4 linked regions of the Homo sapiens genome follow. The protein of the gene in region 1 purifies or fractionates together with the protein of each later gene. This does not show direct contact. Each region holds a gene or a part of one and is shown in the gene's direction. Other genes may lie near its edges.

Region 1 (3,731 bases):
TCTCCTGCCTCAGCCTCTGGAGTAGCTGGGACTGCAGGCGCCCACCACCATGCCCGGCTAATTTTTTGTATTTTAGTAGGGACAGGGTTTCACTGTGTTAGCCAGGATGGTCTCGATCTCCTGATCTCGTGATCCTCCCGCCTTGGCCTCCCAAAGTGCTGGGAATACAGGCATGATGTATTTTTAATTCTTAACATTTTTCTTCCCAATAGAGATCAAGTGACTAGGCTTTTAGTTTTCCATTTTGATTTTTGCTGATGCATGTTTCTAAATAATTCATATTCCAATAGGAAAAGATGGTAAAGCACGCAATAAAGACAAGAGGAATGTAAAGAAGCTCGCAGTGACAAAACCGAACAACATTAAGTCAATGTTCATTGCTTGTGCTGGAAAGAAAACTGCAGATGTGAGTTTCATGGTTTCCTTATTTTTTGTATTTTCCTTTGTGAGGTGAATTTAATATTTGATTATACAGATAACAGGTGCTCTGTATATATTTGAGTAACATTTTTCCAATTTCACTCACTAAGTTGGATGTAGATTTCTAAGTGAATTAAGGCACCTCAGTGGTTGGAACTTGCGAAATGGAAAAGAGAATTGAACAGAAAAGCTGAATTGAGAGTGTGTTTAATTTTAGTGAGTAGCAGGAAGATCATGGATTAAGGGCGAAAGTAGAGGATGGGAGCTATAGATGTAGGAATGCTATATACACAGGTGGTTGTTAAAATCTGTGAATGTAGATGAGCACTCAGAGAGTGAGGAATGAAGAGGCAAGGACTAACTGGCTAGGTCCTTCCTTTCATATACATGTGTGTAGTTTTGGTGAGACATTTTAAGTGCAAGGCTTTCTCATGTTACCTTTCTTTATCATTTCCAGAAAGCTGTAGACTTGTCCAAGGATGGTCTGCTAGGTGACATTCTACAGGATCTTAACACTGAGGTAAATGAATCTCCAGGAGTTGTAAAATATGCAGAGGACATAGACTGAAGAAACACTCTAGTAATTATACAAAACAGACTATTGCCAGAATTTTTTCTTTTTTTTTGAAACAGTAGCTTGCACTGTTGCCCAGGCTGGTGTGCAGTGGTGCGATCTTGGCTCGTTGCAACCTCTGATTCCCAGGTTCCTCTTCCCTGATTCCTGCCTCAGCCTCCCGAGTAGCTAGGATTACAGGCACCTGCCACCACGCCCGGCTAATATTTTGTATTTTTACTAGAGACTAGGTTTCACTATGTTGGCCAGGCTGGTCTCGAACTCCTTACCTCGTGATCCGCCTGTCTTGGCCTCCCAAAGTGCTGGGATTACAGGCGTGAGCCACTGTGCCCGGCCTGTTGACAGAATTTTTTAAAATGTAAGAACGCCAACAAAAAACCCCCCACCAAAAAACAAAGAAACCCCCTTCAGATTGGTTTTATCCCACCATTTTAGGTGAGTATTTCCAGCTGTTAGAGCTGTGTGATTATGTAGATAGGGATGTGTGGGTGTGTGTTTGAAGTAGTAAGAATATACCCAGGAGTCAGTTCTGTGAGTGCTCACTGCTTGTGTTCAGTTGCTGTGGTGTATGTTCCCTAAATAGATTGAAGCCTGTCAATCTGCACAATCAGGTATAAGAGCCTTGTCTTGAATTCTGAGTGGGAATGAAGGAAGAGTGAGTGAACTATCCCTGATAGAACTCAAACAGGATTAGCTGCATTGTGAATTTGAGATTTGGCCATTTCCCATAAAGACTACGCTCTCATTTAGAAGTGTACTTCTTTTAAAGTGACCATTGATTAAAATGACTTAACAACAACACCATGTAGTTTTATCTTGACAATTTTTAAATGTAATATTCTCAAAGGGTCAGTGAAAGTATGTTAAATTTTAAGAAGAAAAAATTTGGGAGGGGGTAGATTTAATATCTATTTTAGTTTTCTTGTGATTTCTATAGTATTGTTGCTATAGTAACCACAGTACATGACATCGATGGGAGGGGGGAGGGGGAAAGGGAAAGAAAAGAAAGCTTTGCTTATTGGGCTTCAATGAGTGAAGAAGTATACTTTTTCTGTCTGTGGTAAACCAAGCATGGCAGTGAATATGTCTTACCTTTCCTTTTAGACACCTCAAATAACTCCACCACCTGTAATGATACTGAAGAAGAAAAGATCCATTGGAGCTTCACCGAATCCTTTCTCTGTGCACACCGCCACGGTAAAGTGTGTAGAGATACCTTCAATCTTGATTTATAGTATTGCTTTAAACTTATTTTGTTGCTTTTCTGTATGAGGGAAATACCTTTACATTTGTTTTTGATTTTTGTTTTAAATTAGGACTCCCATTCAATTTATAGTTTCATGTATTTCAAAAATAGCATGTGCCTGCCTTTTTCATAGTAAATTTGCAGTAACTAGTGTGTGTTTATTATAGGTATTACAACTGTGGTAAATGCAATAATTTTCCTCCCAGAAGCAAGTATTTTTTTGTAAACCTAGGTAACAGTAAAATAATTGAAGCTGTTACATTAATAATACATAAAATCTTTTTATAAAAGGGAACTGTCATTATCTTTGGTCAGGGTAGGACAGTTGCATATTTTTAGTATGTAGGTCTAACTGACTAAATATTTAAAAACGTTTACAGGCAGTTCCTTCAGGAAAAATTGCTTCCCCTGTCTCCAGAAAGGAGCCTCCATTAACTCCTGTTCCTCTTAAACGTGCTGAATTTGCTGGTAAGTGTGATGTCAGGCAGAATTGCAAGAGTGTTGAGTGGTTTCTGTCAAAAATGGAGGCCCTATGATGGAGGAGGTAGAGGAGATTTTGAAGGTGTTGTGATGGCAAGTTTAAATGTGAAGATTTGAATTCATAAAAATTTCAGTAAAAGTTAAAAACACCCAATTTGGAGATTAAAGAGAAATGCAAACATAGTATAGAAAAGGGACAGGCTGCTATTTTAGTGTTGGATAAGCCTTTGTGCGCCTTTGTGTGCCTTTGTGTGCCTTTGTGTCATCGCAATAACACATGACAAGAATGTGTGATGATGCCTACAGGCGATGATGTACAGGTCGAGAGTACAGAAGAAGAGCAGGAGTCAGGGGCAATGGAGTTTGAAGATGGTGACTTTGATGAGCCCATGGAAGTTGAAGAGGTGGACCTGGAGCCTATGGCTGCCAAGGCTTGGGACAAAGAGAGTGAGCCAGCAGAGGAAGTGAAACAAGAGGCGGATTCTGGGAAAGGGACCGTGTCCTACTTGTAAGAGCATTTTATGACTTTTCTGGCAAATAGGACCACAATTTTTCTGTTGGATTTTGAAAGGTTTTTGAAAATGTGATTTCTGCAGAGGAAGTTTTCTCCCGGATGTCTCTTGTTGGGACATTGATCAAGAAGGTGATAGCAGTTTCTCAGTGCAAGAAGTTCAAGTGGATTCCAGTCACCTCCCATTGGTAAAAGGGGCAGATGAGGAACAAGTATTCCACTTTTATTGGTTGGATGCTTATGAGGATCAGTACAACCAACCAGGTAATCATATATAAGGTAACTATATGCCTTTAACTCAGAGTAGGACTTTTCCCTTAAATATTTTATTTTTTGTTTCTTTTTGTGTGTTTTGTCTTTTTATTTAATCAGTTTATTTCTGTTTTTTTTTTCTTTATCCTTAAATACTTGAGTCACTGTAATTAGCTCAGGTCAGGCCCTGCCCTCACTTAACATGTATTGTAAGAGAGCGACACTCATTCATTGTAAAGTGAATGCGC
Region 2 (3,731 bases), on another chromosome or scaffold:
GGAGTCTCACTCTGTTGCCCAGGGTGGAGTACAGTGGTACGATCTCAGCTCATTGCAACCTCTGCCTCCTGGGTTCAAGTGATTCTCCTGCCTCAGCCTCTCGAGTAGCTGGGATTACAGGCTCGCACCACCACACCCCAATAATTTTTGTATTTTAGTAGAGATGGGGTTTTGCCATGTTGGTCAGGCTGGTCTTGAACTCCTGACCTCAGGTGTTCAAGGTCCACCCGCCTCAGCCTCCCAAAGTGTTGGGATTACAGGCGTGAGCCACCGCGCCTGGCCCACTTTTTATCTTATCTATTCTCTGGAAAACTTATTGAAAGATTGGAATTATTTTGTTTTTGAATATTTGATGGAATTCAGTGATGCTGTTAGAGGGGTTGCAATGCCAAATTTGGTTATTGTATAATTTAGATTTTCTGTGTTCTTACTGAATTTCTTCTGTCTGCTTATTTTACCTGTTTCAAAGAGTTATGTGTTAAAACTCTACTGCTATGATTATGGACTATTTCTACTTATATTTCTGGGTCTATTCTTTCATTATATATTATGAAACCATGTGATTAGATATATACAAATTTAATGTTGTTATATATTGTTGGTGATTGAGCCTTTTATATTTGTAAATTGGCTATTGTTATTTCTAACTGCTTTGAGCCCTAAAGTCTATTTTGTTTAATATTATTAAAGCTTATCAGCTTTCTTTAGTTAGTATTTATTTGCACGGTACGGATTTTTGTAAATCTTTTAATTTTTATCTTTCCATATATTTGTGAACAGAATTTAACTGGATTATTTTCCTAAATTCAGACAGTCTGTGTCTATAACTGGAGCACGTCATTTATTTATGTTTAATGTAATTGGTCATATCTATGAGTTTGAATTCTATTGTCTTATTTTGTCCTGCTTTTTATTTGCTTGTTTTATGTTTTGTTTTTTTTTTCTCTCAATTTTTGGCCTTCTTTTGGATTATTATTTGATTTTTTTCCCTCTATCAGCTTGGAAGTTATATGCTCTATTTCTATTCTTTTAGTGATTATCAGTTACTATGTAAGTCCTTAATTTATCAAAGCCTATTTAGTACCTTTCCCCTCATTCTCAACAAATTGAGATCTCAGGATCCATTAACTCAATTTTCAAATTCCTCGTCTCCTAATTTATGTGCTGTTATTGTCATGTATTTTTGTTTTGTCTTTGTCAATCTACATAAGGCATTTTTATTCCTGAATTATGCAGTCAATGATATATGGATTTAGTCACATACTACCTTTGCTTTTCTTTCCTTTCTGGATTATTATTATTTTTGAGACAGTTTCATTTCGTCACCCAGGCTGGAGTGCAGTGGTGCGATCTCAGCTCACTGCAACCTCTGCCTCCTGGGTTCAAGTGATTCTCATGTCTCAGCCTCCCAAGTAGCTGGAATTACAGGCATGCACCACCAAGCCTGGCTAGTTTTTTTTGTATTTTTAGTAGAGATGGGGTTTCACCATGTTGACCAGGCTAGTCTCAAACTCCTGACCTCAAGTCATCTGCCTGCCTTGGCCTCCCAAGTGCTGGGATTACAGGCGTGAGCTGCTGTGCTTGGCCTCCTTTCTGTATTTCCGATCCTCCATTTGTGATCATTTTCTTCTTCCTGAAATAAATCATTTAGAACTTCATTTAGTATGGTCTGGTAACTGACTCTCTCATTTTTTTCTTATGAAAATGCCTTGAATTTCATTGTTGGAGGATAATTTGTTGAATATAAATTCTAGGTGGAAAATTATTTTCTTTTAGCACATTGAAGCTATCATTTTACTGCTTTTTTTTTTGGCTTCTATGTTTTCTATAGAGAAATTACCTGTTTGTAATTCTTTTGAAGCTAGTTTATCCTTTTTGTTTTTTGTCTGCTTTTAAGATTTTCACTTTGATTTTCTGTGGTTTCACTCTGATGTACAGAGGTGTGGATTTCTTTTTATGTAGTTTGTTTGAGCTTCTTGAATCTATAGATTAATGTCTTTCATCTGTCCTGGAAAATTCTCAGCGAGTGTCTCTTCAGCTATTGGCTCTGCCTTGTTCTTTCCTGTGTCTCTCTCTGGGATTCCCATTAAATATATGTAAAAACTCAATCATAATTTTGCCTCTCTAGTATGCATTCTGTGTAATTTTTTCTGATCTTCCAGTTTATTCTCTCCATTTGTCTCATTTCCTTTAAACTATTTTTTTTGTTTTTTTTTTTTAGTTTCAGTTTTTGTATTTTTCAGTACTGTGAGTTCTGTTTGGTTCCTTTCCAAATCTGTTGTCTTTTTTTTTAGCTTAATAAAGTATCAAGCAATTTTTGTGAGTACTTTTTGTTGTTCTTATTTTCTGCAGGTATTTTGAAGTTTGTCTTTTAGTTCTGTAAACATAGTAAACACAGTTGTTTTATAGTGAATGTTCCATCCAATATATGACCTAATATTCAAAGCCTTTTGAGTTTTTTGTTTGCTAGTCTGTGCCGAATCTAACATCCATAGTCTCTTGAGACTGTCTTTTTGTCTGTTGTTTCTTTTGGTACTGTCACATGGCCTTTTATCCCCCTATATGCCTATCTTTGGATAATGGTTATTTTCTTTAAAAAGTATTTGTTAGATAAGTTGAGGCCATATGGTGATACTTTCTCCAAAGAAAATTTCCATTTGCTCCTGAAGCCACCTACAGCCATTATCAGTGCAGGACTTCTGAATCCAGATCTAAGACTTGAAGGTTTCTGGACTATCATACTGATATGAACTCAGGCTGCAGGCCTGTGAAGGGGCACTGATTAAATTCCAGTTCGTCCTTACTCTGAGGGGGCAGCCTTTTGGGCTCTAGCTTAAGAAAGATGGGTGTCAGACTTCCTTACTTGGGTAGACTCAGGGATTTGACTCTTGGTTCCTTCAGCCTACACAAATAACCGCCCAGTTTCTCAGCTTTTTCAGATTGGCAGATGTCATGAGAGCAGAAGTAACATTAGAGGCTGGGTTTGTTTTGTGTTCTTACTGTCTCTAGATTTCACATTTGCTTTTTCTTGATGTCTCTTCAATTCCTGAAGATTTCCTTTTCTTATATATTTTATTTAGCTTTCTCAGTTGATCTCAACAGGAACTTGCCATTATGAAAAGCACCTCTATTTTTTTTTAAATTAGAAGTGTTTTTGCTTTATTTTTCTTATGTTTTTATTTTCCCTATATTATCTAGGTCATTAAAAAAAGTTTTGGTATCCTTTCAACTGTGTAGCTTTCTTCAGATACCTGGTGATTTTCATTCTATTTAAGAATAAGGGAATAAGGCTGTTTGGTAACTGTGTGTGTGTGTATGGGATGAGGGGGTGGTTGTTGCCTGGCAGCTTTGCTTTAGGGTGAACAGGGGTGGGACCAGATGTTGTCCTGGGTGACCCCGAGGGTATGAATGCAGAATGCTTTGCTGTGGGAAGCTGGCAGTTTTAGAGGCTGTTCTAGTTTTCTCCATATAGTTCATTTGGTTCTTTAGAAGAGAGCCCTGTGATCTTTGTTTTTTTTTTTTTTCCAAGTTAGGTTTAAATGCCTGTCTTCTGGTTGTCCTGCCTGTGGGGAGGGTTGTGGGGAGATAGGGGCAACTGTTTGTCATACAGACCCTCTGGTCATTAACCCATTTTCATCTCACATCACCATTCCTGGTGACTTGAGCCTGGAGCTTCCTCATGGTTCTTTTAGGCATATGGGCCTCCTTTTCTGCTGCAGCCCCCTCTGTTC
Region 3 (3,731 bases), on another chromosome or scaffold:
TGAAGGCATCATTAAAATGTTTTTTTTTTCTTTTTTACTTAATTTTAAAATTTTCATTTCCTTTATAGAAACTCTGCATTCTAGCCAAGGTAATTACTTTGCTGTTTACTCATAGTACAAAGTCATTTCTATCTTTATGACTTTGACATGCCATTCCAGGCAAAGGGAGCAGCTCTTTCTTTTTTTTTTTTTCCTTTTTGTTTTTTGAGACAGAGTGTCACTCTGTCGCCCAGACTGGAGTGCAGTGGTGCAGTCTCGGCTCACTGCAAGCTCCGCCTGCTGGGTTCACGCCATTCGCCTGCCTCAGCCTCCCGAGTAGCTGGGACTACAGGCACCCGCCACCACGCCTGGCTAATTTTTTTTGTATTTTTAGTAGAGATGGGGTTTCACCGTGTTAGCTAGGATGGTTTCCCTCTCCTGACCTCGTGATCCGCCTGCCTCAGCCTCCCAGAGTGCTGGTATTACAGACGTGAGCCACTGGGCCCGGCCGGGAGCAGCTCTTTCAAGATATAAATACACGGCCAGGCGCAGTGGCTCGCGCTTGTAATCCCAGCACCCAGCACTTTGGGAGGCCGAGGCAGGTGGATCATTTGAGGTCAGGAGTTTGAAACCAGGCTGGCCAACGTGGTGAAACTCTGTCTCTACTAAAAATACAAAAATTAGCTGGGCGTGGTGGCTCCTGCCTGTAATCCCAGCTACTCGGGAGGCTGAGGCAGGAGAATCACTTGAGCCTGGGAGGCGGATGTTGGAATGAGCGGAGATTGTGCCACTGCACTCCAATCTGGGTGACAGAGTGAGACCCTGCCTCAAAAAAAAAAAAAAAAAGAAAAAGATGTCAAGACGTGAAACTATATAAGGTGTGGCAGTCTTGGTGGTGTTAATTTTTTTAAACACCTGCACCACCCCACAGCAGTTCCCCATGGGTCTCAGTAAATGTCTGAATTACAGAAATTTTGTTCCTTTAGGATTCAGTGCGCCTCCTTGCTGTGGAAGCTTGTGTCAGTATTGCCCAGTTATTGTCTCAGGATGACCTTGAGACTTTGGTGATGCCTACACTTCGACAAGCAGCAGAAGATAAATCTTGGCGCGTTCGCTATATGGTGGCTGACAGATTTTCAGAGGTAAAGTGATCATTTTTAAGTACTAAGGAAATAAACCTGAAAACACATAGATTTGCTGTTGTACCCAAAGTTTCTGAATTAATTCTTTTCAATGGGAAGTGCTGTGGCAAAAATATGTATTTACAGATTGCACAATTTTGTTTTGTTCTTGTTAATTCTTTTGTTAGTATACATTAAAACCCGTTCAAATTCTTTTATAGCTCCAGAAAGCCATGGGTCCTAAAATCACCCTAAATGACCTCATCCCCGCCTTTCAGAACCTACTTAAAGACTGTGAAGCTGAAGTCCGGGCAGCTGCTGCCCACAAAGTAAAAGGTTAAGGAGTTCAATTTATGTTGGAACATGTGTCATTCATTTTGGTGCATTTTTTTGTTAGTCAATTTTGCATGTTTTTTGTTCTAGAATATGTTTTTAAAATACATAGGGATGTTTTTAGTGTGTGGAAATGTTACATTGTCACTTAAAGATAGTCTCTTTATATTTAAAACCAAGAAATCATTTTGTCTTGTTTTTGTAAAAAAAAAAATGCCTTTCAGGTTGGATTGGTGTGATATGCAATGGCATAGAGAGTTCACGAAAAAGTTTATTTAGAACAAGAGCTGTTTTCCTTATTTGCTTAAACATATAATTTAATTGAAATTATTGATAAACCTGGTTAAATGTCCTCATTTGGCTCTTTGTAAATGGCCCTGTGAAAGCATTCTTTTTTTCTATTTATCTTTTAGAACTTGGTGAGAACTTGCCCATTGAAGATAGAGAGACCATAATTATGAATCAAATTCTGCCTTATATAAAGGTAAACCTGACTTTATTTTGTTTCACTCTCTTTTATATGAAGGTAAACCTTAATCTCATTATTTTTGTTTGTTTGTTTACCTTAAAGCTCTTTGAGTTTAAAGGTTGACAGGGAATGAATGGGGAAGATGTGTTAATGTGCAACATTGTTATTCATCACTTATTAGCCCATTGTAATTGTAAACTGCTCTTTGGTGCATAGGTTTATGTTACCTAACAAGTAGTCTGAGGAAACATTATCAACTAATCAGTATTGAAATAGTGCTGTCTTTAAATTCCTTGGGGTCAGGCATGGTGGTACATGCCTGTAATCCAAGCACTTTGGGACGCTGAGGTGGGAGGATTTCTTGAGCCCAGGAGTTTGAGACCAGCCTGGGCAACATAGTGAGACCCCATTGCTACAAAAAATACAAAAATTAGTTGAGCCTGGTGGCATGCACCTGTAGTACCAGCTACTTGGGAGTCTGAGGTGGGAGGATTGCTTGAGCCCAGGAGGTTGAGATGGCAGTGAGCTATGATCATGCCACTGTACTCCAGCCTAGGTGACAGGGTGAGACACTGTCTCAAAAAAAAAAAAATTAGGCCAGGCGTGGTGGCTCACACCTGTAATCCCAGCGCTTTGAGAGGCCAAGGTAAGAGGATTGCATGAACCCAGGAGTTCAAGACCAGCCCTGGCAATGTAGTAAGAACCTGTCTCTGCAAAAAATGAAAAAAATTAGCCAGGCCTGGTGGTGCATGTCTGTAGACCCAGCTACTCTGGAGGCTGAAGTGCTTGAGCCTGGGAGGGTGAGGCTGCAGTGAGCCAAGGTCATGCCACTGCACTCCAGCCTGGGCAACAGAGCAAGACTCTGTTTCCCAGAATAATGGTATGGAAGTTTCTGTTGTCTTGTAATAAAGGCTTTTAATTTCGATTTTATTTTAGGAATTAGTATCCGATACCAATCAACATGTCAAATCGGCTCTAGCTTCTGTAATTATGGGATTGTCTACTATTTTGGGCAAAGAAAATACCATTGAACATCTTCTACCTCTTTTCTTAGCTCAGTTAAAGGATGAGGTGGGTCTTGCTTTATGTTCTGTTGCCTTTGATAGTAATTTGATTTTATTTGATTTTGGTTTAGGGTTTCATTAAAATAGAACCCCCAAAAAGAAAATGGATAAAAAAATCATAACTTATTTTAAACCAATGACACCTGTGATTTTGGGTATGGGGTTATAGGTTCCTCAGAAAGTGGGCAAAAGTACCCATTAGAGTAAACCTAGAAATATCTGTTTATCATCTTTACCTGATTTTTGCTTTATACTCCCTGGTTTCTTTAAAGCTAATGTGTCTTTGTTTAAAAAGTTTCATTTATTTAAGTTTAAATATAGTATCAAAAATTATAATGATACCTAATATTTACTGAGTAATTACTACATGGCAAGCATGAGCCTTAGTGCTTTGCATGTATTTTTACATGCAATTCTCACAACAATCCTGTGAGGTAGGTCTTATTATTATCCCTTTTTGTTTGTTTGTTTGTTTGTTTTGTTTTTTGAGACGGAGTCTTGCTCTGTCGCCCAGGCTGGAGTGCAGTGGCGCAATCTCTGCTCACTGCAAGCTCCGCCTCCTGAGTTGATGCCATTCTCTTGCCTCAGCCTCCTGAGTAGCTGGGACTACAGGCGCCTGCCACAGCACCCAGCTAATTTTTTGTATTTTTAGTAGAGACGGGGTTTCACTGTGGTCTCGATCTCCTGACCTCGTGATCTGCCCGTCTCGGCCTCCCAAAGTGCTGGGATTACAGGTGTGAGCCACCGCACCCGGCCAATTATCCC
Region 4 (3,731 bases), about 61 Mb from region 1:
AGCCTGTGTAATCTGCAGCACAGCAGAGCCAAGAACTCAACAGAAGAGCAGTCAAGATGGAAGTTATAAGATCTATATGATAATATTGACATGCTTCATACATAGGGGAATCCCTGAGATCATCACTTAGAACATATTCATCCTCATTTTAAAAATAATTCTAGCAAGCTCAGCATATTAGAACCACCCCCTTAGAAGATACAAGGAATGTTATCAACTTCTGCAAAGACTATGTTTGGTGGGGTTGCTATTAGACATACAAATGACAGTTTGTATAGGAAAGGGAAGAGAAAAACACCTAAAATGCAAACTTACATCAAACATCACAAAGGCCTGATAACATTTAGTGTAGTGACAAATACTCATTTTTCAGGTCATTCAACCCACATTTACTGAGAACCTAGTCCCTTCCCTTGTGAAGTTTACTGTATTGCCTATTCTCAGGAACGTTCTGGCCTTCCTAACAGTCATATCCCCAAAGCTGTTCTTAAGACAATGTAGGCTTTTCATTGCATCCTTCTTTCTTTTTGAAGACCATGTAGACATTCAGCCTGCATTTTTTCTTTTTAAAAGCACACTGCTCACATCTTTTGGAGTTCTTCCCCTAAGATGGGCTGCAGAGTAGGTTAGCTTAATTTTTCTACTGCATAGGATAAACACATATATTCTTTTGATTTAAGAGTTTTATTGTTAGCCAAGCATGGTGGCACGGGCCTGTAATCCCCATTACTCTATAGGCTAAGGCACAGGCATCCCTTGATCCTGGAAGGCGGAGGTTGCAGTGAGCTTAGATGGCACCACTGCACTCTAGTCAGAGAAACAGAGTGAGACTGTCTCAAAAAAAAAAAAAAGTTTCATTGGCCAGGTGCAGTGGCTCAGGCCTGTAATCCCAGCACTTGGGGAAGCCGAGGCAGGTGGATTGCTTGAGCTCAGGAGTTTGAAACCTCAGCCTCCCAAGTAGCTGAAATGGGTGACACAGCAAAACTGTATTTCTACAAAAAAAATACAAAAATTAATTGGGTATGGTGACACGTGCCTGTAGTCCCAGCTACTTGGAAGGCTGAGGTGGGAGGATTGCCTGAAACTGGGAGTTTGAGGCTGCAGTGAGCTATAGTTGTGTCACTGCACTTCAGCCTGGGCAACAGAGCAAGACCCTATCTCAAAAAAAAAAAAAAGTTTTATTGCTAAAGATTATGGGGAAAGAGAAGGGATAGCAAAGATAAACATGGAAATTATAAGGAGTACTGCCCCTAAATCCTGATTATCTTGCTAGATAGTGTTTAGCACCATACAGTAGTAGATGTGGCAGCATGGTGTATGATAATCACATGACCATCCTATTGTGTGATTTTGGGAAAATTACAGAATTTCTTGTGACATCATTTAGTTCATCTGTAAAGTGAGAAATTTCAATAGATGATCTCCAAGGTAGGGATCTACCAGCCCTAAAATTACCATTGTATATATCTATTTATGACACCATGTCCTTGAGAAAAGGCTAAATTCTGTTCTGTGTAGTCTTTTTAAGAAGGAAAGTCAGTGTTTCATATACTTCAGAAATTTTCCTATAAAAATGGCTGATAGGGTTTAGATATTTGTCCTGCCCAAATCTCATGTTGAAATGTTATCCTCGTTGTCGGAGGTGGGGCCTGATGGGATGTGTTTGGGTCATGGGAGTGGATCCCTCATGGCTTGGTACTCTTCTTGTAATAGTGAATTCGTTCTTGCAGGATCTGGTGGTTTATTTTTTAATTTTTTTTTTGAGACAGGGTCTTGCTCTGTCACCCTAGTTGGAGTGCAGTGGCACAATCATGGCCCACTGCAGCCTTAACCTCCTGGGCCCAAGCAATCCTCCCACCTCAGACTCCTGAGTAGCTGAGATTACAGACATGCATCACCATGCCTGGCTAATTTTTTTTTTTTTATTTTTGTAGAGATGGGGTCTGCCTATGTTGCCCAGGCTGGTTTTGCACTTCTGAACTCAAGCAATCTACCTGCCTTGGTGGCCCAAATTGCTGGGATTACAGATGGGAGCCACTGTGCCTGGTCGACTGGTTGTTTAAAAGTGTGTGGCATCTCCCCACACTTGCTTGCCTTGCCTCTCACCAAGGGAGATGCCTGCTTCCCCTTTGCCTTCTGCTATGACTAAAAGCTCCCTCAGGCCTCCCTAGAAGCCGAGCAGATGCCTGTACCATGCTTGTACAGCCTGCAGAACCCTGAGCCAATTAAACCTCTTTTCTTTATAAATTACCCAGTTTCAGGCATTCCTTTATGGCAACACAGGAACAGCCTAATACAGTGACTGATTAGAAAAGGCATTTTCTTAAAAATGATAGGCTGCTTTTTTCAGAAAAGGTCACTTAAGTAGCCTTTCCTTGATGTTGGGATGTTCCAGTCCCATTCCTTGATGTTGGTGAATTTAAACATTAAGGTAGTTAACCTTGACTGGCAGCTCATTGACTTATGATGATGTTGGAATAGCATCACTTCTGTAAGCCTTGGGGGATAGTAATATTGCAGGAGGAGTTGTGAAAACTGATATTTACCAAATATCTGTTTGTGCCAGCCTTAACACAAGTGATTTCCTATATTTCTAACTTAATCTTCTCCCAGGATGCCTGAATGTGGTTCTCACATCACAGGATGTCCATAGTCCTCCCTGTGTACTTCCAAAATCTTCACATCTATTGTCTACAGTGGATTTTTAAAAATTGTAAGATGCCACCTATTAGTGGATCATGGAGTGAATTCCAGCATTATAAAAATGAGGTAGAATATATCAGAATGCATGTAGTAAGGATGAATGTTGTTTTTTATATATATATGTATATATATATATATATATATATATATATATACACACACACCATATATATAACATATATATATATATACATAAACACACATACACACATATGTTTTTGGGGAGGGCAGGTTCAAAAAATTTAAAGCATAGAGTATATTGATCAGCTGAATGACATAGTGAGTAGGAGTGAAATGGTATTTCAAAAGTCCTTTCTTTGTTGTCTTCTCTTTTGTTCACCAGCTTGCATTATTTATCATTTGTTTTCCTCATAGTTTTTGGAACAGATTTAGTATCGGTCTTATTTGAGGTATAGTATGAAACACTCCGTTGTCAGCGTAAGAGATGCTATAGGAGTGAAAGATAGCCTGCAGATTTTGCTGTTCTGAAAAATGCTTTGCACTTCTTCAGGCATTTATTGATGGAAAAGTATGTTTTTGTTTGCTTCCAATACCTAGAAAAGTAAAGAGTTATCTAACTCTGGAGAAGACTCTCTGGGAGATGCTTACCCTTCTCTGTAAATCATGAATTTGAGCCAATACCTCAGAGAGAGCCACATCTGTTGCCATAATTTCCTCTGCAGCATCATTTTCATCTCCCATGCCTCATGTCATTTTTCTCATTTTCTCCAGTGTTTTCATGATGTTTTGGATAACAGGCTACAGTAATTAAATTCAAATATGGCAGCCCACCATTACATTCTCATGTTTAACATAAAATCCCAATGCACAGAAACAATTATAATTCCATATAATTGACCTGTTAACTCATGCTAAATCATCTGCTATTCAGTCTCAGTGCATTCTTTAACTAAAAAGTTAGTCTGTGCCTGTTCTGTATATAAATATATTTAAAAGTAAAATAGGCTAAAAATCACTGTTGGTGCTCATTGGAAACATTTTGGGGGCGTTTAGTTGTGGCCAGCAAA

Evidence for each region. Proteins that work in one complex are often made in the same cells at the same time.
Region 2: the proteins of POLA1 (region 1) and POLE4 fractionate together in Homo sapiens (co-fractionation; one large-scale study listed by BioGRID). This does not show direct contact.
Region 3: the proteins of POLA1 (region 1) and PPP2R1B purify together in Homo sapiens (affinity purification with western blotting, with the first as the bait; one study listed by BioGRID). This does not show direct contact.
Region 4: the proteins of POLA1 (region 1) and CHM purify together in Homo sapiens (co-immunoprecipitation; one large-scale study listed by IntAct). This does not show direct contact.

What each region holds. Positions count from the first base shown.
Region 1 is NC_000023.11:24,714,264-24,717,994, forward strand, and holds part of POLA1 (DNA polymerase alpha catalytic subunit), read left to right. Parts: intron 1-290; coding exon 291-406; intron 407-877; coding exon 878-940; intron 941-2,098; coding exon 2,099-2,191; intron 2,192-2,620; coding exon 2,621-2,708; intron 2,709-3,026; coding exon 3,027-3,228; intron 3,229-3,316; coding exon 3,317-3,495; intron 3,496-3,731. UniProt on the Homo sapiens protein: Catalytic subunit of the DNA polymerase alpha complex (also known as the alpha DNA polymerase-primase complex) which plays an essential role in the initiation of DNA synthesis.
Region 2 is NC_000002.12:74,965,117-74,968,847, forward strand, and holds part of POLE4 (DNA polymerase epsilon subunit 4), read left to right. Parts: intron 1-3,731. UniProt on the Homo sapiens protein: Accessory component of the DNA polymerase epsilon complex. Participates in DNA repair and in chromosomal DNA replication.
Region 3 is NC_000011.10:111,752,685-111,756,415, reverse strand, and holds part of PPP2R1B (serine/threonine-protein phosphatase 2A 65 kDa regulatory subunit A beta isoform), read left to right. Parts: intron 1-965; coding exon 966-1,121; intron 1,122-1,321; coding exon 1,322-1,436; intron 1,437-1,846; coding exon 1,847-1,917; intron 1,918-2,838; coding exon 2,839-2,973; intron 2,974-3,731. UniProt on the Homo sapiens protein: The PR65 subunit of protein phosphatase 2A serves as a scaffolding molecule to coordinate the assembly of the catalytic subunit and a variable regulatory B subunit.
Region 4 is NC_000023.11:86,040,854-86,044,584, reverse strand, and holds part of CHM (rab proteins geranylgeranyltransferase component A 1), read left to right. Parts: intron 1-3,731. UniProt on the Homo sapiens protein: Substrate-binding subunit of the Rab geranylgeranyltransferase (GGTase) complex.